Homo sapiens: one gene and its partners. The protein of the gene in region 4 interacts with the protein of the main gene of each other region in a pairwise test. Each region holds a gene or a part of one and is shown on either strand. Other genes may lie near its edges.

What was found.
Region 1: the proteins of CEP44 (region 4) and ING5 interact in binary tests that used the Homo sapiens proteins (3 or more experiments, as listed by UniProt).
Region 2: the proteins of CEP44 (region 4) and FXR2 interact in binary tests that used the Homo sapiens proteins (3 or more experiments, as listed by UniProt).
Region 3: the proteins of CEP44 (region 4) and ZNF250 interact in a two-hybrid assay, tested with the Homo sapiens proteins (one large-scale study listed by BioGRID and IntAct).

Annotation. Positions count from the first base shown.
Region 1 is NC_000002.12:241,705,039-241,710,886, reverse strand, and holds part of ING5 (inhibitor of growth protein 5), read right to left. Parts: intron 1,672-5,848; coding exon 1,505-1,671; intron 1-1,504. UniProt on the Homo sapiens protein: Component of the HBO1 complex, which specifically mediates acetylation of histone H3 at 'Lys-14' (H3K14ac) and, to a lower extent, acetylation of histone H4. Component of the MOZ/MORF complex which has a histone H3 acetyltransferase activity.
Region 2 is NC_000017.11:7,589,613-7,595,460, forward strand, and holds the end of FXR2 (RNA-binding protein FXR2), read right to left. Parts: intron 5,146-5,848; coding exon 5,067-5,145; intron 4,736-5,066; coding exon 4,626-4,735; intron 4,393-4,625; coding exon 4,306-4,392; intron 4,014-4,305; coding exon 3,791-4,013; intron 3,570-3,790; coding exon 3,372-3,569; intron 3,283-3,371; coding exon 3,082-3,282; intron 2,988-3,081; coding exon 2,892-2,987; intron 2,743-2,891; coding exon 2,642-2,742; intron 2,546-2,641; coding exon of another isoform or gene 2,510-2,545; exon of another isoform or gene 2,454-2,509; intron 2,314-2,453; coding exon 2,218-2,313; 3' UTR 1,618-2,217; downstream 1-1,617. Other genes in the region: SOX15 (transcription factor SOX-15), read right to left, coding at 1-64. UniProt on the Homo sapiens protein: mRNA-binding protein that acts as a regulator of mRNAs translation and/or stability, and which is required for adult hippocampal neurogenesis. Specifically binds to AU-rich elements (AREs) in the 3'-UTR of target mRNAs.
Region 3 is NC_000008.11:144,887,157-144,893,004, forward strand, and holds part of ZNF250 (zinc finger protein 250), read right to left. Parts: intron 3,248-5,848; 5' UTR 3,194-3,247; coding exon 3,152-3,193; intron 2,919-3,151; coding exon of another isoform or gene 2,904-2,918; coding exon 2,777-2,903; intron 2,539-2,776; coding exon 2,425-2,538; intron 1-2,424. UniProt on the Homo sapiens protein: May be involved in transcriptional regulation.
Region 4 is NC_000004.12:174,285,810-174,291,657, reverse strand, and holds part of CEP44 (centrosomal protein of 44 kDa), read right to left. Parts: intron 1-5,848. UniProt on the Homo sapiens protein: Centriole-enriched microtubule-binding protein involved in centriole biogenesis. In collaboration with CEP295 and POC1B, is required for the centriole-to-centrosome conversion by ensuring the formation of bona fide centriole wall.

The DNA of each region.
Region 1 (5,848 bases), on a different chromosome or scaffold from region 4:
AGTCCCAGCACTCTGGGAGACCGAGGCAGGTGGATCATTTGAGGTCAGGAATTCAAGACCAGCCTGGCCAACATGGCAAAACCCCATCTCTATTAAAAATACAGGCCAGGCACGGTGGCTCATACCTGTAATCCCAGCACTTTGGGAGGCTGAGGCAGGTCAATCACCTGAGGTCGGGAGTTCAGGACCAGCCTGACCAACATGGAGCAACCCCATCTCTACCAAAAATACAAAATTAGCCGGGCTTGGTGGCGCATGCCTGTAATCCCAGCTACTCAGGAGGCTGAAGCCGGAGAATCGCTTGAACCCAGGAGGCAGAGGTTGCAGTGAGCCAAGATCGTGGCATTGCACTCCAGCCTGAGCAACAAGAGCGAAGCTCTGTCTCAAAAAAAAAAACCAAAAACCAAAAACAAAAATTAGCCTGTTGGTAGTGGTGCACACCTGTAATCCCAGCTACTTAGGAGGCTGAGGCAGGAGAATCGCTTGAGCCTGGGAAGTGGAGGTTGCACTGAACTGCAGCCATGCCACTGCACCCTAGTCTGGGCGACACAGTGAGGCCCTGTCTCAAAAACTAAATAAATAATACAAAAATAAAAAAATAAAACTACAAAAATTAGCCAGGCTTCGTGGTGGGTGACTGTAATCCTAGCTACTCAGGAGGCTGAGGCAGGAGAATTGCTTGAACCTGCGAGGCACAGGTTGCAGTGAGCCGAGATAGCACCATTGCACTCCAGCCTGGGCAACAAGAGCAAAAGTCCATCTCAAAAATAATAATAATAATAAAGTATGGCTACTGCATGCCTGTAATCTCAGCTACTCGGGAGACTGAGGCAGGAGAATCGCTTAAACCCAGGAGGTGGAGGTTGCAGTGAGCCGTGATCACACCACTGCACTCCAGCCTGGGCGACAGAGCAAGACTCTGTCTCAAAAATAAATAAATAAATAAAATAAATAAATAAAATAAAATATGGCCACCTGGAGGTCGGGCACGGTGGCTCATGCCTGTAATCTCAGTATTTTGGGAGGCTGAGGCGAGTGGATCACTTGAAGTCAGGAGTTCGAGACCAGCATGGCCAACAGGGTGAAACCCCGTCTCTTCTAAAAATATAAAAATTAGCTGGGTGTGGTGCTGCATGCCTGTAATCACAGCTACTAGGGAGGCTAAGGCACAAGAATCACTTGAGCCTAGGAGGCGGAGGTTGCACTGAGCTGAAATCACACCACTGTACTCCACCGTGGACGACAAAGTGAGACTGTCTCAAAAAAAACCCAAATGGTTCCTCCGAGCAGATACACAAACAAAAAGGGCCCAGAAAAAAAAAAAAAAAAAACAGGGATGGTCCTACATGAAGTGTATTCCGTCTGCACTTCCTCCAGCAGCGTCAGCTACCAAAGCCAGCCTTCCACTTGGCTATGCCCATTTCCGGGCAGTTTTTACATTTTGTTGCATGAGAGGCAGGAGTAGAGGTCAGAGGAAGAGCCATGGCCCCCGCCCCGCCCTCACCATCTCGTAGGTCTGCATGGCCAGCTGCACTTTGTCGTCACTGTATTCCTTGCACTTGCTGTAGGCGTTCTGGATCTTCTGCAGGCGCTCCACGCGCTGGTCTGGAGACAGCGTCTTCACCGTGGAGATGTACTCTGCAGCCAGGATGTCAATCTCTGCTTTCTTATCTGATGGAGAAATGGGGGAAAAGCTAGCCCTGCACAAGACACCATGATGTGCTCACCAGACTGGCAACAACTAAAGTCAGCCAACGCCAAGTTGTGGCAAAGATGTAGGCTGACATGAACTCACGCTGTGCTGGTGGGAGCGCAAGTGGGCAGAACCGTTCTGCACAAACAGTCTGGGATCGTGTGAATGTGCAGACTTTACGGCAACGTGCCCAGGACAGTCCCAGCTCTGAATGTTACACAGCAAGTGGTCACAGTGCCTTCTTCGACTCTCAAACATCCTGTATGAATAACTTGTAGCCACCTTTCCTATGACCTGGCATACTACTCTTTTTTCCCTTTTCTTTTTTTCCGGTAGAGCAGTCAAGAAAGAACACACTACTCTTAAATACCCTAAACAAACCTTATGTCACCTAAAGAAATCCACACGGGAAACATTCATAAGAGCAGAAAACAGAAAACAACCCCAATGTCCAATCCTCAGTAAAATGGAGAAATAAGCTGTGGTCCCTTCAGACAACAGAGTGCTACTCAGCAACAAAAAGAGCAAACTACAGCCACACACAGCAACACGGATGATTCCCAGAGAAGGTGACACGGAGCAAAAAGAGCAAGAAACAAAAGAAAACATACTGGATGATTCCATTAATATGAAGAGCAGAAACAGACACAACTCTTAACCCTTCAGTTTAGAGGGGTAAGAAAACTAGGCCAGGCGTGGTGGCTCACGCCTGTAATCCCAGCACTTTTGGAGGCCGAGGCGGGCAGATCACGAGGTCAGGAGATCGAGACCATCCTGGCTAACTTGATGAAACCCCGTCTCTACTAAAAATACAAAAAATTAGCCGGGCGTGGTGGCGGGTGCCTATAGTCCCAGCTACTCGGGAGGCTGAGGCAGGAGAATGGCGTGAACCCAGGAGGCGGGGCTTGAAGAAAGCCAAGATAGCGCCACTGCAGTCCGGCCTGGGCGAAAGAGTGAGACTCCATCTCAAAAAAAAAAAACAAAAGAAAACTGTTGAAGGCCATGCACGGCGGCTCACGCCTGTGATCCCAGCACTTTGGGAGGCCAAGGCAGGAGGATCACGAGGTTAAGAGATGGAAACCATCCTGGCCAATGTGGTGAAACCCCGTCTCTTCTAAAAATACAACAATTAGCTGGGCATGGTGTTACGTGCCTATGGTCCCAGCTACTCAGGAGGCTGAGGCAGGAGAATCACTTGCACCCAGGAGGCAGAGGTTGCAGTGAGCCGAGACCGTGCCACTGCACTCCAGCCTGATGGTAAAGCGAGACTCCGTCTCAGAAAAAAAAAAGAAAACTACTGTTAAAGGTGGAAGGTGACTGTCACCAAACTCAGGATGGTCACCCCTTGGTTGGGGAGGGGTGTCATGACTAGGAGGGTCACAAAGGCCTTCAGGTGCCAAAGGGCTTGATTTCTCCATCTCGGTAGCAGACAACAGAGAGGTTCACCTGGTAATATTTGTTAAGCAATCTATAATTGTTGCACATTCATTTCCTGAATATATGTTACATTTCACAATAAAATAACTCTCTGTATTCCCTAGTCAAGATGCTGTACCTAAGGAAAAAAACACAGCTATCTCAGTCTTGCAAAACATGTGCCCAGGCCGGGTGTGGTACTCACGTCTGTAATCCCAGCACTTTGGGAGGCCAAGGCGGGTGGATGAACCTGAGGTCAGGAGTTCAAGACCAGCCTGACCAACATGGAGAAACCCCGTCTCTACTTAAAATACAAAAAATTAGCAGGGTGTGGTGGCGCATGCCTGTAATCCCAGCTACTCGGGAGGCTGAGGCAGGAGAATTGCTTGAACCCGGGAGGCGGAGGTTGCGGTGAGCTGAGATCGTGCCATTGCACTCCAGCCTGGACAACAAGAGCGAAACTCCATCTCAAAACAAAAAAAACAAACCTGTGCCCAGCATAATGAATAAAAAATCTCAGGCCAGGCACAGTGGCTCACACCTGTAATACCAGCACTTTGGGAGGCCAAGGCGGGCAGATCACCTGAGGTTGAGAGTTTGAGACCAACCTGATCAACATGGAGAAACCCCATCTCTATTAAAAATACAAAATTAGCTGGGCATGATGGTGCATGCCTGTAATCCCAGCTACTCGGGAGGCTGAGGCAGGAGAATCACTTGAACCTGGGAGGCAGAGGTTGTGTTGAGCCAAGATCGCGCCATCGCACGCCAGCCTGGGCAACAAGAGTGAAACTCCATCTCAAAAAAAAAAAAAAAAAAAATTGCCACACCAAAACACATTATCATGAAATTTAAAACTTCAGAGATAAAGGAAACATCTCAAAAGCTTCTGAATAGGAATAACAAAAAAAAAATAGATCACACATATAAAGGACCAAGAATCCAAACGGCACCAGATTTTCTGCAGCAACGTGGAAGCTAGGAGACAAGGCAGCAATGTCGCCAACTTCCTGAGTGAAAACAATTGTCAACCTAGGATTCTATACCCAACCAAACTATCAGCTGAGTATGAGGCTAGAACAAACACATTTTCAGACATGCAATGTTACAAGAAAATCTACCTTCCTTTTTTTCTTTTTTTTTTTTTTTTTTGAGATGGAGTTTCGCTCTTGTTGCCCAGGGTGGAGTGCAATGGTGCGATCTCCAGGTGCAACCTCCGCCTCCAGGTTCAAGTGATTCTCCTGCCTCAGCCTCCCAATTAGCTGGGATTATAGGCGTGCGCCACCACACCCGGCTAATTTTGTATTTTTAGTAGAGACGGGGTTTCTCCATGTCGATCAGGCTGGTCTCGAACTCCTGACCTCAGGTGATCTGCCCACCTCAGCCTCCCAAAGTGCTGGGATTACAGGCATGAGCCACCGTGCCTGGCCAAGAAAATCTACCTTCCTATGTGCCTTTTTTTCAGGAACCTACCAAAGGAAAGGCTCTATCAAAACAGGAGAGCAAGGGCAAAAAGAAGACATTTAAGATTCAGGGAAGAGGGTCCCACACTGAAGAGGGGTGAAAGGAGATCCCAGGAAAACCTCAGGGCAACAAGTGTGCAGTTGGCATGGAAACAATCAGGACTGTGGCCTCCAGGACAGAGGGCTCTGCGGAAAGAAAGCACACACAGAACTGTCAGGGTAGACAGCCTGACAGACCACAAGGAAAAGCCCAGCTGGGGAGACAAGGGTCGAATGCAGAAAACAAAGCCAACAAACAGGGCCATGAGTAACTCTAAGAAATACACAAAGTTATTCCAAAGAGGTCATATAAGCACAGCAGGTGGCATGGCTCAGTGTTAAAGTACCTACACAGCTGCCCAATGGAAGTCCCATCACTGGTCTCACCACAAATTCTAACAACCTACAGCCAGGAGATGGGGGAGCCAGGTGAGGGCATGTGAGGGTGTGGGGGCCACTGGAGAAGTACAGCTGCCTGTGCCATATACGTCTGAACAACGTCTAAAACTGACGAGAGATAAAATAAGAAACAGCAACAAAAACATGTTGTTTAGAAACAGGGAGTTTAAGGGCCGGGCGCGGTGGCTCATGCCTGTAATCCCAGCACTTTGGGAGGCCTAGGCAGGCGGATCATGAGGTCAGTAGATCAAGACCATCCTGGCTAACATGGTGAACATGGTGAAACCCTGTCTCTACTAAAAATACAAAAAATTAGCTGGGTGTGGTGGCATGTGACTGTAGTCCCAGCTACTCGGGAGGCTGAGGCAGGAGAATCACTTGAACCCGGGAGGTGGAGGTTGCAGTGAGCCAAGATCGTGCCACTGCACTCTAGCCTGGGCAACAGAGTGAGACTCTGTCTCAAAAAAAAAAAAAAAAAAAAAGAAAAAAACAGAGTTAGGGCCAGGCGAGGTGGCTCACGCTTGTAATCCCAGCACTTTGGGAGGCTGAGGCGGGCAGATCATGAGGTGAGGAGATCAAGACCATCCTGGCTAACACGGTGAAACCCCGTCTCTACTAAAAATACAAAAAAAAAATTAGCCAGGCGTGGTGGCGGGCACCTGTAGTCCCAGCTACTCAGGAGGCTGAGGCAAGAGAATGGTGTGAACCCAGGAGGCAGAGCTTGCAGTGAGCTGAGATCACGTCACTGCACTCCGGACTGGGCGACAAAGCAAGACTCCGTCTCAAAAAAAAAGAAACGGAGTTAAATATCAAACGGCCAAAAAGTACTACCAAACTT
Region 2 (5,848 bases), on a different chromosome or scaffold from region 4:
CAGCCGTGGCAGCCGGAGGCTCCAGGCTCCAGGCCTGGTCCTGTGAGGAGCCTGGTAGCGCCATGGGTTGGGAGAAGCCTTAAGAGGGCGTCCTGAATGCCCTCCCCTCAACGTGAAGCGTCGATCCTGAAAATGGAAAGGTCTTCCCAGTCTGGAGTCGTTGCCGAGGAACTTGGGTCCTTAAAAAGTGTATTTTATCCCCAAGCCCAGAGCTTAAACCGGAGCCTTTGCTTCCAACCTGTTCGGCACACTTTGGGGAGAGTCGAATGCAAAATCCGCTGTCTGGTGCCCCGGCACTGAAGAGGTGTTCTGAGGCCTACTGACTGGGGGACCCCCGGTCCCTCTCCCCGACCCGCAGCTGCGATCAGACCGACCTTCCGTGGAGGGGGTAAACCATAAACCCCTTTGTGGTCTCCGGAGTTCCGACAGCTGCCAGGCGCGGATAGGCCAGACCTCTCCCACCTGGGCTCAGCGTTTGTGGCAGGCGGGCCAGACCTGGGAACAGCTTTTAAAGACTGACTCCGCCCCTGTCCCTCCCATAAGACTGCACCTCCTTAAGGGCGCCAACATCCTCAGCCCGTAGGTAAACCCAGGTGTCCTGTTTGTCCCAGCCCCCAACACCCTCAGGGTGCCACGCCCCCCGCCCCCCCCACCCAAGACCTGATGTCAGGCCTTCCAGCCCGTTGCTGATTGCCTCCCCTCCCTGAAGCACAGGCAATTTAAAGCCAATTCTTTCCACAATGGGATCAAACACAGGGGGATGAAGTGCCCTCAGGGCCCGAGTTGTGCTGAGAGGAGCTTGGGAGCATCCCGGACCACCACCCCAACCCCTTTCCTGGTGCCTGTTGCTCCTCAAATCCCAGAACTGCCCCTGGGGCAAGAAAGGCCGAGGAGGGAGACCATTTTTGTTTCCTGAGTCATTCCAGCAGGTGCTTGGGCCGTGATTCAACCCCTTTCCCAAGTGAGAAAACTTAAGCCCTCCCAACTCCAGTCCCTAAACCTATATTTCTCCACTGCTATTGAATTATGGCAAGTTTTAGCTTCAGTCGTCCAAGTCATGAGGGGGGAGCCAGGAAACCCAGGACAACTCCCCAAGTTAAGAGGTCTGTGATGCGCATGCCGGAGAAAAAGCCTGGAGCCAGAACAGAACACCACCAAGAAGGCCGGACCCCGGGCTCCAGAGGCTGCTGTGAGGGAACCCTGCTCCCCACTCTGCCCAACGGCCCAGCCCAAGCCCCAGGCCTCAGGTAATCGGATTAAGCAGCCTGCCTTGGCTCTCAGCTTCTACAGGAACAGCTCCAGCTCTGAGCAGCCCTGCCTAGCCTGTGCTGTGACTCAGGGTATAGGAGTGGCCCAACTCCCTCTACCAGCAAACTTGGGGGAGGGGAGAAGCAACAAGGCACAAGCCCCCCTCCTCTGAACCAGGAGGGAGAACCTGGGCCTGGGGAGTTTAGGAATGTCAGGAATTCCCAGAAGTAAGACCATCTTTGGGACAAGAGACAATGAAGAGAAGTCAGATGTGGAGGAACAGAAAACAAGAGCCAGGGGCCAGGGCAGGTCAGTCCTAGAGAAACAAATGGACCAAACTGGGGACAAAGAAGGCACAGGAGCCAGACAGCCATTTGGATTTTTTTATTCTCTTTTTAAATACTGTACAGTGAAAAATAAATACGCCTTCTCATCCACCAGACAAGGTTGGTCCCCTCCCCAGGGGGACCTTGTCACCCCCCTTCATACACACCCCTGGTTCTACTCCAAAACCTTCCCCGTGCCTCCCACCCACTTATCTCTTACTATCCCCGTCTTCCACAGTGATGAGGCCCCAGAAATGGGGGGTACAGGATGGGAGGAGGGATAGCAGGGGAGGCCCCCTGAACGGTCAAATCTGGGTGGGTCGAGGAGCACCCCCCACCAACAGGTGGAGAATGGGGGTGTTCAGAGAGAGATTGGGGCATTAGAGGATAAAGGCACATCCAGTCTGATGGGGAAGGAGAGAGGCTCCCCTTACCCTGGGGGTAGGGTGGACAAGAGGGAGGGGGTATGACCCTGTTACACACCCCTCCACTAGCTCCTGGAGGTTGGGGGGTACCCAAGCTGCTGTGCCACCCCCCTCCCCCCTAGATAAGAGCAGCTCCAGCGCAGGTCAGTTGGGCCTGTGAGGGCCATGGTGTTGGGCAGCAAGCGAGATGGAGAAGGGAGGGGTGCAGGTTGGAGGTTTTATGAAACCCCATTCACCATACTACCCAACTCCAAGGGGGCGGAGAGCTCCCCATTCTCCGAGGGGCCCTTAGGAAGCTTGCTGACAGAGTCACCCTGAGGGGAAAGTGGGAAAGAAAACAGAAAAGCAAGAAGCGGTGAGTAGAAATTCAGGTGGGAGACATTCCCTACCATCCAAGCCCTCCTGGCATTTGGTGATCCAGAGGTTGGTTCCCTGATCTCATGATCCAGTCTCTCTTACTTGGGATCCAGAAAATGTGAACCACACTTTCTTCTCTATCCTATTCAAAGTTTACACTGGTCTAAACTCCATCAGACACAGCTGCCTCTGCAATTCAGTAGGAGATTTGTGAAATTTTTTGTGCCCCCTGCCCCAGAGTAACAACAAAAAAGGGATGGGGTAAAGCACATCTTGCCTGCCTACCTTCTGTCCTGAAAGAGAGTCTTCTGAGGGTTTAGTGCGTTCCAGGGGTGGCCTCTGGCGGCTCTGAGACTCTGCTCGTGAGATATAGTCAGCCACAGTCACTGGGGAAGGCAGGAGATTAAGACTTTCAGATGGAATTCTGGTAGCCAGCCTAAGACACCCACTGAACCCGAACCCCTGATTTTCACAGGGGTGAGCATCCCATTCTCTCAGCTCTGAGGAAGGATTCTGGTGTCCAGAGTTGGCTGACCTGGCTGGCGGTCTCCACTGATAGAGCCATCAGTCCGATTACCACGGTTACGGCGGCGGCGGCTGCGATTACGACGTTGAGGTCTTGATTCATCTTCTGTAGGGTAGGAAAAAACCAGAGTCACACATCCAACCTCCCACCCTCGATTCCTACCCATCTCTAACTTTCCAGACCCCAGGCACACCCTCACCCAGGCCATTCTCTGTCATGTTGGGCCCATCTGATTCCAGGCCTCCATCCATGACGGTCCTGTCTTCATCAGTGCGGCGGCGGCGGGAGCGGCGGCGCCTGGCACTTGCTGGGGGGGGTTCCCCAGGTTCTGAATCAACCGGGGGCTCTGGTTCAGACGTGTCCAATAGGCTGTAGGGATTACTGTCTGGATCCTTCAGCACTGGTCAGAGGAAGAAGAGGAGGAGTTGGCAGTCAGGTGCCCATCATCTTTCCTTTTGGCCCATATTCATGAACCCAGCTGTCTGGTACCTGAGCTAATAGATGAAGAATTGTATCTCGAAGTGGGCCGGGGGGCAGGTGGGGGTCCCCTACCCCGGCCCCCAGTCGGCCGCCTCCGGCTTTCTTCCCCTCGGGTTGGGGGATCCCTGTCGCCAGGCCCAGCTCGGTTGGGCTCCTCTCTCTTCTCTGACTCAGTCTCTGAAGCTGTAGACACATCTGAGCTGGGGCCTGAAGAACACAATGGGATTTATTCACGGCCATTCATCCCACCTCAGGATCCATCACATCCCCCAAACTGGAAGAATTCTCCTTCTCACTCACAAGCCTCCCAGCCAATCAATCACTTTTTCATCATCTCCATTCCAGATTTCCCCAAACTTCCATCCAGACCTCTGCCTCTACCCACAAGCCCTGCCACTCCTTGCCTCCTGTTCCCATAACTGTCTCACCATAGGCAGGACCGCCTGTCCTCCGGCCACGGCCACGGCCCCCATAGCTGCCCCCATAGGTTCGAGTCGCATGGAGGGAGGAGGAGGAGCTCTCATCAGTGCTATATCCAGCCTTGTCGCTGCCACCGCTGCCCCGCCCACTCCCAGGAGGGCGAAAGCCCAGCCCAATCTGCCGAAGCTGCTCATCAATTTGTAGCCTCTCCAAGCGAAGCTGCTCTACCTCCTGGTTGGGTAAAAGATGGAAGAAGGGGAAGGAGAAATAAGATCAGTGCCTTGCTTCATGCTTCTGCACCCTGACTGTCCCTCTATATCTAACCTCTCAGGAATGCAGGGAGAAGGAAGACACTGGCTAAACAAGGAAAATTCTGGGACCCAACCCTATAGCCCCAAATTTCCACAGATGTTTTCTGTTCTACACGGAGAGACAAACAGAGAACCAAAATCCCTGAGCTGACCCCCACAGCAGTCTTAGTTCCCTTTTCACACCCAGCATTTTTCTCTCCCGGCCTGGGTACCTGCAGGTAGGAGAGGTGATACTCCAGCAAAGCCTGGGCATTGCTGATGTTCTCTCGGGTGCCAACAAAAATGAAGGGAACCATTCCCTAGAGAACAGAGAGCAGAAACGATGGATCAGAAAGGAAAATGAAATGGAAGGATTAACGCCGCCCAGTCTCCTAGGGGAGCCTGCCCAGTGGGATCATTCTGGGCTCTAAATCTACTAGTGTTAAACAACTTTCCGTACTCCACCCTCTCAAAGAACAATCCCAGCCCTCAGAGGACAATCCCATTTACTTCTGGAAACCAATCTCTATGCCCACTTGCCCCGTACCCATACCTCCTCCCTGGGGTTCTTCTTGTCATTATCACCTTCCACTCGAACCCTCACCACACCAGATTTATCCACAATCTCCTGGATCACTTTCCCGTTCTTTCCAATCACTTTGCCTGGAATAGGTAAATGAGGAATTCAGCCTTTTATTTTTTTTAAGGAAATAAGAATAAAGCTGATACACCGTCTTCCAGCCTCATTTTCTTTATATGGATTCCATTTACTTCATTCTCCTGCTTCTAGGTTTCTGATGTGTTTTTACAGGACAAAATGTTACAATCCCTAGAAATTTATTCTTTCATTTTTATCACTCCCATTACAGACTGTTTCTCTGTCCTTGTGAAACTGGGAGTCCACAGGGAGGTGCCAATCCTGGATAAAAGCTCAGAATCACTGTAGAGAATCTTGATTCTGACCTCTAACTGTATATACACACCACCAACTCACCAACCAGGTTCCTGGGCACTTGCACTGAGTCCTCAGAAAACTCAAGGTAGCTTCGGGCCTGTCGGCAAGCCTCGGGAGTCTAAAGGAAGAACAGCAGGGAGTTGTTACTAAAACAGAAGACCAGCTGGATGTGGTGGCTCACGCCTGTAATCCCAGCACTTTGGGAGGCTGGAGGCAGGTGGATAAATTGAGCTCAAGAGTTCAAGACTAGCCTGGGCAATATGGTGAAACGCCATCTCTACTAAAAATACAAAAATCAAAATACAAAAATACTAAAATACTAAAAATACAAAATTGGTGGCTCACGTCTCTAATCCCAGCTACTCCGGAGGCTGAGGCAGGAGATTTCTTGAACCCAGGAGGCAGAGGTTGCAATAAGCTGAGATTGTGCCACTGCACTCTAGCCCGGGCAACAGAGTGAGTTAGACTCCATCTCATAAAAAAAAAAAATTAAACAAATAAATAACTTAAAAAAAAAAACAGAGGACCTTGGCCAGGCACAGCGGCTCACACCCATAATCTCAACAGTTTCGGAGGCTAAGAAGGGAGGATTGCTTGAGGCTAGGAGTTAACAACCAGCTTGGGCAACAGAGATCTGGTCTATTTTTTTGATTTTTTGGTCTCACTCTATTGACTATGTTGCCCAGGTTGGTTCAGTGGCACCATCATGGTGTACTGCAGCCTTGACTTTCCAGGCTCAAGTGATCCTCCTGCCTCCGCCTCCCAAGTAGCCAAGTAGCTGGGGCCACAGATGCATGCCACCACGCTCAGTTAACGTTTTT
Region 3 (5,848 bases), on a different chromosome or scaffold from region 4:
GGAGAATCGCTTGAACCCCGGAGACAAGAAGTTGCAGTGAGCCGAGATCACACTACTGCACTCCAGCCTGGGGGACAGAGTGAAACTCCGTCTCTCAAAAAAAAAAAAAAAAAAAAAAAAAAAAGAGTGGAAAATCCTTTCGTTGCTATTACAACATGTAATTTACTGAGTTACAAACAGCAGGGTCAGGGCTGGGCAGGTGCACACACTTATCCATCCTGAGGAACTGCCAGGACAAGACAAAGGCATATCTACTCCTCGCTTGCTCTGATGCTAGTGGCAGTGATCCAGGTTGTGGCAGGTGGCTTCTGTTTCTATGCACATCAGTAATCTAAAACTCAGTCCCATCGTCCTCTGTGGCCTGTGTTAGAGGTGAGGGGACCAGGTGCTTCCATGAAAAAACTTCTCATCTCCAACCAGCCATGCTCCCAGAGAATTTCACAGTCTCTGTGGTGTCAAATCAAAGGGCGCTCAAAGGCAGTTTAAGCTCTCCATCAGGCGAGTACATAGCTGGACACAAGGGAGCCCAGGACTGGTTTGGCAGTGGCAGCAAAATGCCCTCCTGTGTTTTCTTGTCTCCTACAGCTGCAGTCAGTAAGCAGAAGTTCTATGCAAGATTTCCAAGACATGATGATGTGTCTTCTTGTATAGTCACTGGAAAATTAAATTCCTCTAAGGCTGGCATGTACCTTGTTCCTCTGAGGATATCTGATTTTGCAGGCCAGTAAGAGGTAGACTGTAATACCTGGTGCCCTATCCACATAAAGCTACTTTAGAAATAAGGAGGAGCTTTCAAGGGGAAAACCACCACATCTGAAATGCTGAAGCTGATCAGCCAATGGAGGTGTTGCCCAAACTGTCCCTACTCTCCCCAAGTGGGGCACATTATGGCAGGACAGGCTGACTGAGGTTTTCCTAAGACTCAGACGTCACCTTACTGAAGTCAGAGGTTCTTTGCCTTAAGCAACCGCAAACATGAACTTCAGGGTTGGATCTATGCACCATCTTTCTTTTTATAATTTTCTCCATCTAAAGGTCTTGTACATCTTTTGTTAGATTAATTCTTGGATGCTTTATATTCCTGATGCTATTATAAATGTTATCTTTTAAAATATTACACCTTTGCTGGTTGCTGACAAATATAAATAAAACATTTCTGGCCAGGTGCAGTGGCTCATGCCTGTAATACCAGCACTTTGGGAGGCTGAGGCAGGTGGATCACTTCAGGTCAGGAGTTCGAGACTAGCCTGGCCAACATGGTGAAATCCTGTCTCTACTAAAAATACAAAAATTAGCTGGGTATAGGGGCATGGACCTGTAATCCCAGCTATTCGAGAAGCTGAGGCGTAAGAATTGCTTGAACCCAGACGGCGGAGCTTGCAGTGACCCGAGACTCATGCCACTGCATTCCAGCCTGGGCGACAGAGCAAGACTGTCTCAAAAAAAAAAAAAAAAAAAAAAAAATTGTATCCAGCAAAACTGGTAATTTCCCTTGTGAATTTTAATCAATCATTTTCCAGGTTGACAATCACATAAACTGCAAACAATGCTTTTTTCTTTCTAATTCTTATAGCTTTGGTTTTGCCTTATTTTTATTTTTATTTTTTTGAGACAGAGTCTCATGCTCTGTCCCCCAGGCTGGAGTGCAGTGGAGCGATCTCAGCTCACTGCAACCTCTGCCTCCCGGGTTCACGCCATGAATCTGGGAGTAGCTGGGACTACAGGCCTCAGCCTCCCGAGTAGCTGGGACTACAGGTGCATGCCACCATGCCCGGCTAATTTTTTGTATTTTTAGTAGAGACAGGGTTTCACCGTGTTAGCCAGGATGGTCTTGATCTCCTGACCTCGTGATCCACCCGCCTCAGTCTCCCAAAGTGCTGGTATTACAGGCTTGAGCCACCACGCCTGGCCGGTTTTGCCTTATTTTGTACATGGGATACCCAGTACAACATTATATGGACATGGGGATGGCGGGCTTCTTTGTCTTGTTCTGAGATGAAACAGTGTGCTTTCAGCACTTCACCTTAAGTGTCAGGTTGAGACACTTCCTTTCCACATTTAGGATGCTTTGTTATTTTCTAAATCATCAGGTAACTCTCAAAACCTGAATGTCCTATTAGGACCAAATCTGGCTAACCAGTCCCTCTGGTCAGGGACAGAATCACTGCAGCCATGCCCTAACTTCCTCTACATGGCTCTGCACATCAGCTTGTTGAAATTCACTGCTATGCTCACTTCCAGCCATGGGCTGCCACCTGATTCAGCAACCCCCAGTCTATAGACTCCTTTGCCAGATAAGGCCAGATAAGGTTTTACTCCAGGTGGAAGCCACTCCAGTGAGCGGCACAGTATGAACTAGGTCCACAGCTTTGCTCAGGACCTGTTTAGCCCTCAGTGAGGGAGGGGCCAGCTCTCCTCACTCACCTGAGTAGTCACTCCACAGGCCCTGGCTCTTCTTAGCCCCCTTCCTGTCCAGGACCCAGGGATCTTCCCCTCGCTCCAGCTGGGAGATTATGTCAGGCTTGGATCCTGGAAGTCCTGCTCGTGGGGAGGGAAGTCTTTGTTTACACAACATTTACAGAGCCCCCTCCCCCTGCCCAAGCCACTTGTGGGGACATGAAAATGGACAGGACTGATCTTCTGCTGGAGCTGAGCACCCAGAGAGGTGATGAGAGCAAACCTCCAGGACCAGCCTGTCCCAGGCCCCGTACCCTGAGAAGCCCCCACCCCAGTCCAATACGCAGATACATAGACGAGGCCTGCTAAGGTGGCTTACCCAATGAGACTACATTCCCATAGGTTTCCATCATCACATTTCTGTAGAGACCCCTCTGAGCAGGGCACAGGCGGTCCCATTCATCCTGGGAGAGGAGCACAGCCACATCCTCGAAGGTCAGCTTGGCCTGGAACGACAGGGGCTGCTGCAGGTAAAACCAAATCCTGATGTCTGTGATGGGGAGTGGGTGCATGTGACATGTGACATGAGCAGTTGGCAGTGGGGGGCTCTGTGAGCTGAGGTGGGTGATGGGAAGGGGCCGCGGAGTTCAGGGCATGTGGTGACGCTCTGGCTGCTCTTAGGAGCTCTACGGGGCACGGAAGGAACCACAGGGCTCGGGCTGGGGGCACTGCATAAGCACTGGGGACAGCTTACCTGGGGTCCTGCCGGCACTGGCAGGAGTCTGGCTGCTGCCATCACCTGGTCTCCTGGGGACTCCGAGGATCACGGAAATTGAAGGAGCCTATGGGGCTGAGGAAGAGGAGGGGGCAAGTGAGGGGCATGGCCTTGAGACCGTAACTTCCTAGGGGGCCCTCAGGGGATCCCTGGGCCTCATTCAGAGTCACTGAGGGGCACACTGAGGTCAGGTGCAAGGAGCTGCTACTGTTGCAGCCTTGGTCTGCCTTGCCTCCCCCATGAACTCTGACCCTATGGTTCAGGAGCCTGTCCAGGCCCTGAACACACAGTTCCTGGGCCTGCCCAGCTAGTACTGGGCTCTCTGAACACCAGGTGCAAGGCACTTGCTGCACCCTGGTCCCGGCCCATGGTCCTGCCATACACAAGGATACCAGCTCACCAAGGCTCTGTGTGTTCTATACCTGAGGCCCTCACACAAGTACCAGACTGTCCGCAAGTCATGTGGGGGATACAGGCATCAGGCCAAGCTGCTTCCCCAAACACCCTCCCAATTAAGAAAGCCTTGGCCACCAGGGTGACAATAAGACTCCCCTCACCCCACCCTTAGGCAGCCCTAGTGCCCCAATGTGGCACCAGGTTCAACCAGGTATTTGAAGGGGAGGCATGGAAGTGGTCAGTTCTGGACAAACTGAGTCAACAGTGGCCTAGGGATCTGGTCTGAGCAGCTGAAGGAAGACTTGTCATCAAGTGAGAAGGGGATGCTTGGGGTAGTGGGGCTGGTGCTGGAACGTAACAGGACAAGGTAAGCAAAGGTATCTGACACACACCCAAACAGCTGGGAAAAAGGGGGAGCGGGGCAAGAGCTTTCCTGACACATTTGGTCCTGTACAGGATAGGGTTCGCAGTCTTCTGGAGCATCAAAAAGAAGATACTGTGACAGGGATACAGAAACCAACCAGGTGACCAAAGGTGGTAGATCACTCCAGAAAAACGTGGTATAACAAAGCAACCAATCCCCTCACATGCTTGGCTCAGATGGGCACCACAACAAACAGGGTGCTTTAAGAGTGACAAAATAGGTGTCAGGGCTGGGGGCAGAAGTCAAGGGACATCATAATCTCAGTGTCTATAAAACATCAGATATAGGTGGGCGCGGTGGCTCATACCTGTAATCTCAGCACTTTGGGAGGGTGAGGCAGGCACATCACCGGAGGTCAGGAGTTTGAGACCAGCCTGGCCAACATGGTGAAACCCCGTCTCTACTAAAAATACAAAAATCAGGCCGGGTGCAGTGGCTTATGCCTGTAATCCCAGCACTTTGGGAGGCCGAGGCAGGCGGATCACCCGAGGTTGGGAGTTCGAGACCAGCCATGACCAACATGGGGAAACCCCGTCTCTACTAAAAACACAAAATTAGCCGGGTGTGGTGGTGCACGCCTGTAGTCCCAGCTACTCAGGAGGCTGAGGCAAGAGAATTGCTTGAACTCAGGAGGTGGAGGATGCGATGAGCCGAGATCATGCCATTGCACTCCAGCCTGGGCAACCAAGAGCAAAACTCCATCTCAAAACAAAAACAAAAACAAAAATCAGCTGGGTGTGGTGGCGGGTGCCTGTAATCCCAACTACTCAGGAGGCTAAGGCAGGAGAATCACTTGAACCCAGGATGTGGAGGTTGCAGTGAGCTGAGATCATCTCAGCTGAGACTCTGTCTCAAAACAAAACAAAAAAAACACACATCAGATACATGTATATATTTGCACAGACAACTTTCAGGAAGATACACAATAAACTAACTGCCTGCCTCTGAAGAACAGGACAGGGAAACACAGTTGGAGAGAGACTGACTTTCAACCCTCCCCCGTGCTGCTGTTCTCCAAAAATGCCCATTCCCTCCAAATGTGTGTGTGAGCACACTTCTGTGTTAGCGCAATGCAACTCTAATTAGAATTCCAACAGAAGTCTTTTAAAGGAATGACTACAACTACTTGAGAATTCATAAGAAGAATGGATGCTAGAGAATAGCCAAGAATTTAACTGGAAAGAACAGAGGGTGGGGACTGCCTTGCCAGGAATCAGAGCCAAGGGTGGGTAGGAAGCCGCTGCAATTAAACCAACAAGTTGTTGACAGAGGAACAGATGAAGCCAGACAGGTATGTGGGAAATTGGAAGATAACAAAAATGTTACATTTTAGTTCAGCAGGAAATCAGTGGTTCCTTTAGTAACTTGTGTGTACCCAGATGGGATACATCAATAACCAATTTTTTTGTTTGTTTTTTTTTTTGAGACAGAGTTTCACTCTTGTTGCCCAGGCTGGAATGCAACGGCGAGATCTCGGCTCACCGCAACCTCCACCTCCTGGGTTCAAGTGATTCTCCTGTCTCAGCCTCCCAAGTAGCTGGGATTACAGGCATGCGCCACCATGCCCAGCTAATTTTTTTTGTATTTTTAGTAGGGACAGGGTTTCTCCATGTTGGTCAGGCTGGTCTTGAACTCCCGACCTCAGGTGATCCGCCCGCCTTGGCCTCCCAAAGTGCTGGGATTACAGGCGTGAGCCACCGTGTCCAGCCACCAATTTTTTTTTTTTTTTGAGACGAAGTCTTGCTCTGTCACCCAGGCTGGGATGCAATGGGGTGATCTTGGCTCACCGCAACCCCTGCCTCCCAGGTTCAAGCAATTCTCCTGCCTCAGCCTCCCGAGTAGCTGGGATTACAAGC
Region 4 (5,848 bases):
ATACTAAACCAACAGTATGAAAGCATATGAAAGTATACATCTCACTGCTAAAAGCAAACATGAAAACAAACATGGAATATTGCAATACTGAAATCTGTGGCACGTAAATCTCATTGAACACTAGTATATAAATTAAAAGACAAAAATAGTATGAGTAACTACAACAACCACAGAAATTTGTTAATAGAAACAATATAGAAAGAAGTAAAATCTGAAATCAATTACATACATTGGTGAGGAAGAGGGGGGAGAAGTGTAGAGATTCTGAATATGAATGAAGTTGTTACTAGCTTTAAAAAGCCTGCTATGACTACATAATATTTGATGCAAACCCCATAGTAACCAAAATAAAAAGTATAGTAAATAAACAAAAAAAAGAAAAAAATCAAAGCATTCTACTACAATCATCAAATCACAAAGACAACAAACAAGAGAAAAACAGGAGAAACAGAAAGCAAATAGAAAACAATGAATAAAATGGAAACAATTAAGTACTTAATTATTAAAAATTATTACTTTAAATTTTTAATAATTAAGGGCTCTCAGTAGACATGGAATGGCTGAAATGGATAATAAAAACAACACTCAACTATACGCTATCTACAAGAGACTCTAACATTTAAGGACACACGTAGGCTAAAAGTGAAGGGATTGAGAAAGATATTCCATGCAAACTATAACCAAAAGAGAGCAGGGTGGCTATCTATATCAGACAAAATAGACTTTAAGTCGACAACTGTCAAAAGAGACAAAGAAGGCATTATATAATAGTAAAAGGGTCAATTCAATAGAAAGATACAACAACTAAAAATACATATGCACCCAACATCAAAGCACCTTAAAATATACAGTGAACATTGACAGATTTGAAGGAAGAAATAGATATCGATACAATATAGAAGGAGACTTTGATACATCACTCTCTATAATGTACAGGTCATCCAGACAGAATGCCAACAGCAAATATTGATAGAATTGGAGGAAGAAATAGATATCAATACAATACAGAAGGAGACTTTGATACGTCACTGTCTATAATGTACTGGTCATCCGGACAGAATACCAACAAGTAAATTGCAAACTATACAACACTATAGACCAAAGACCTAACATGCATATACAGAACATGAGACCCAACCATAGCAAAATAATCATTCTTCTCAAAAGGACATGAAACATTCTCTATAACTGATCACAGCCTAGGTCACAAAACAAGTCTTAACAAATTTAAGAAGACTAAAAACATTCTAAACATTTTGTCTGATCACGAGGGAATGAAACTAGAAATCAATAATAGAAAGAAAATGGAAAAATTCACAAATACAGGGGAATTAAATAACATACTATTAAATAATACTGGGTCAAAGAATAAATCAAAACAGAAATTATAAAATATCTCAAGACAAACAATAATAAAAACACAGTATACCCAAACATATAGGATGCAGTAAAAGCAGAATAAGAGAAGTGTTTATAGCAATAAATTCATTAAGAAGAAGAAAGAGGCAGGACACAGTGGCTCACGCCTATAATCCTAGCACTTTTGGGGGCTGAGGCAGGCGGGTCACTAGGTCAAGAGATTGAGACCATCCTGGCTAACATGGTGAAACCCCATCTCTACAAAAAATACAAAAATTAGCTGAGCATGGTGGTGCGTGGCTCTAGTCCCACCTACTTGGGACTCCCACCTACTCGGGAGGCTGAGGCAGGAGAATCACTTGAACCCGGGAGGCGGAGGTTGCAGTAAGCCAAGATCATCACGCCACTGCACTCCAGCCTGGTGACAGAGCAAGACTCTGTCTCAAAGAAAAAAAAAAAAAGGTCTCAATAAAACAACCTAACTTTACACCTCAAGGAACTAGAAAAAGAACAAACTAAATCCAAAATTAGCAGAAGGAAGAAAATAATAAAGATTAGATTAGAAATAAATGAAATAGAAAATTGAAAAACAATTTTAAAAATTGACAAAACTAAAAGTTCCTCTTTTGAAAAGACAAACTAAATCAACAAATCCTTGGCTAGACTTTAAAAATAGAAGACTCAAACAAAATCAGAAATGAAAGAGGACACAATTGATCCCACAGATATAAAAAGTATCATAAGGGACTATTATGAACAATTATATGCCATCAAATTGGACAATCTAAAAAAAAATGGGTAAATTCCTAGAAAAATATAACTTACCAAGACTGAATCAAGAAGAAATAGAATGCTTGAATAGACAAATAACAAAAAAGGAGATTGATGGAATAATCAAAAAATTCCCAACAAAGAAAAGCCAAGAGCCAGATACATTCTAGCAAACATTTAAAGAAAAATTAATACAAAACCTTATTAAACATATCTAAAAAAAAAAAAAAAAGAAGAGGGAACACTTCCAAAGTCATTCTGAGGCCTGCATCACCCTGATACCAAAGCCAGACAAATACACTACAAGAAAACTACAGTCTAATACATTTGATGAATATAGACGTAAAAATCCTCAATGAAATGTTAGCAAACCAAACACAACAGCACATTAAAAGAATCATATACCATGACCAAGTAGGATTTTTCATTGTGATGCAAGGATGGTTCAACATATGACAACCAACCAATGTAATATACTGCATTAATAGAATGAAGGATAAAACTCACATGGGCATCTGCACAGATGCAGAAAAAGCACTTGACAAAATTCGATACTCTTTTGTGATAAAAACTCCCAATAAACTAGGTATGGAAGAACCTTATAGCAAATTAGGTAAAGGAAAAACAAAATAAAGTCCATTTATGAGAAGCCCACAGCTAAGATACTTAAAGATAAAAAACTGAAAGCTTTCCCCATAAGATGAGGAACAAGGCAAGGTTGCCTACTTTAGCCTCTCCTATTCAGCGTAGTATTTTAAGTCCTAGCCAGAATAACTAGGTAAGAAAAATAAATTAAAAACATCCAAATAAAAAGAGAAGAGGTACAATATCTGTTTGCAGATGACATGATCTTAGATGTAGAAAACCTTAGGGACCCCAACAAAAATGTGAGAATAAACAAATTTGCCTTTAAAAAAGAAGGAAATCCTGCCATTTGCAACAACATGGATGAACCTGAAGGACATTATGCTAAGTGAAATAAGCTAAACACAAAAAGACAAATACTGTATTATCTCAATGTATGTGAAATCTAAAATAGTCAAATACATGCAAGCAGAGAATAGAATGGTGGTTGTAAGGGAACATGGGGAGAACAAAATGGGAAGCTGTTGTTCAAAGGGTACAAAGTTTCAGTTAGGCAAAATAAATAAGATCTGCAGGTACAACCCAGTGTCTGTGATTAGCAATATTGTATTCTTAAAATTTTGCTAAGAAGTTAGATCTAATGTTAAGTGCTCTTATCACAAAACGTGAAAAAAAGATGAGTAGAAGGAAACTTTTCAAGGTGATGGCATTGATTTCTTGTAGTAATAATGGTTGGATGGTTTCACAATATCTACTTATCTCCAAACAGAAACTGTATACATTAAATGTCTATAGCTTTCTGTATGTCAATCATACCGCAATAAACAGGTTAAAAAATGAAGCAGCACCAGATCCCTGTACACACACCTCTAAAAATAGTCCCTTTGTATATAAAGCACCCCAAATTTTCTCCTTCTGAGTGTGTTATCTACTTAATTAAGGGCCTGGACTACAAAATCCAAGTTTTCACTTTTCACCCAAAGTTTTCCATTCTCACACACAGAATTTTCTCGTTCAGTTAGCAGATGCAAGAAGAGAATTTCAGATATTAGCTTTAAATACTACATTCTTGTCTATACCTGGTATTACTAGCTCTACCTAATTCATTTTCTTTCTTACCATGAAATTATAGAAACAAAAAGGTTACTGCAAAACACTTATAAACATATTGTCAGCATGAAATAATTATAATTATCCTATAATAAATTGTACCTTTTGAACAATTTTGGTCACTTTTTGATCTTCGTGTATTAATAAGTTAATACATGTAAATCATAACCAGAAGGGAAAATCAAAACATTCCACTTACCAAGTAATGATGAAAAAGAGAATGTGTGTGATTTAGTTAATTTAAAATATTATAGAAAGCAACAAATAACAGAAATGGTATCTGGGATAAAGTTCCTGGACCTGGATAAGGATGTTTGGTGATATCTCAAGCTGTTCAACACCTTTGCACATGCCATTTCTTCAAGCTTGAAGAGATACAGAGCAACTCCTTCCCTCTCCCATTCTCCATCTGGCTAATACCCCTCGGCATCCTGCTTAAATGTCACCACCTCAAATAAGTCTTAGATCCCAAACTAATTAATCCCCCTCATTAATTTTCTCTAATAGACCCAGTTCTTTTCCTTCTTGGTACTTATCATAATAAAGAACCAAAATCTGTGCCAAGGGTCCAAAATAGCACTCTACCTGAAAAGCAACACTTAATCCTTGTCATTTCTCAGCTCTATTTCAGAATGAGCTGGGTTACTACCTGGGGTCCCATAACGACCTATATCCCAATGGCCTAGAAATAGAAGGAATACACCGATTCCCCCTCTTGATGCTGATTCTTCACTTTAATAAGCCACCACCATTGTCAGTCAAGATGTTTTGCACTGTCATCGGTCCCAAACTCCTGCTGGTTAGCCAGCTGTCTACTTCCAAGAAGAAAAGGTGAACACAGAAAAAAAGGCAAGAAATTCAAAATATCTATGCTTTTTACAGAAAGAGTAAATGGTACAATTATTTTGGAAAACTTACTGGTGATACCTACTAAAAGCTGACATACATGGGGCCTATGAAACAGGAATATGACTCTGAAGAATGTACACAACAGAAAAACACATACGTGAACCAAAAGATTTGAACGAACTGAGACTTTAAACAAAATGATTCATTTTTTAAAAACTGCCCCAAAAGTAATAGCATGGAATTTATTTCTAAATGACTAATTTTCTTGCATGGAGTGGGACTTTCATTAGATTATCAAAGGAGATTTTTCCCAAAGAAGAGTCATAAATAGGTATATAAACGATTAAGAACCTTTGCTGGAAGGAGGTAAGTTTCTGAACTATAAAAGTCTAGTCAGCCAGTAACGTGAAACTCAATAACTTACATAAAAACATCTACCACAACTGTCCATGGACACTTCATAGAAGAAAAGTAATACATAACAATACCTTGAGTAATGAACCCTTTGAGAATGAAGCTCCTTTAAAATGAAGTTATCACATTAAAATGAAGTCATTATATTAAAATGAAAACAGAACAATTCATAAATCAGGTGAAGCTGGGTTAGTGTGATCTTTTCCTCCAATTCGCATTACCCAGCTGTCCAGGATACAAATCATCCCTTTACACACCGTTTCTCTATCTTTAAATAAGGAAAGGTAAGAAGGTCACCGATTTACAAAATCCTAAATTTAGTAAGCTTCCTACTTTAAGCCCCTCGCCACTCATTTCCACAGCCATTTCCCCAGGGTAGAGCAACTGCTCCCTCTTTATGAACCTACCTTTCTGTTCCTAGTCTCCTTTATCAACATGGTAGGCAACAGCTTATTGAATATACTTTATAGACTTGTGCATGCACATTTTAGTCACTATTTTTCAGCCAATAAATTACTTCAACTAAACATTTACATTTCTAGACAGAGATAATTTTAGGTACTGTCAAATGGGAGATAACTAGAAAAAGAGAAAGTCATCCTGAAATCACATTATACAAAACACTGGCCAAGAAGGTAAACCCTATTTAATATCCTTTAGACTGACTGGGGGTAGATGGACACACGGAAGCCTAAAAGGGATTTCCCAAGATAAGCCTTTACTTTCCTGAAAAACATGAAGTGAGGACTACTCTGGCTTT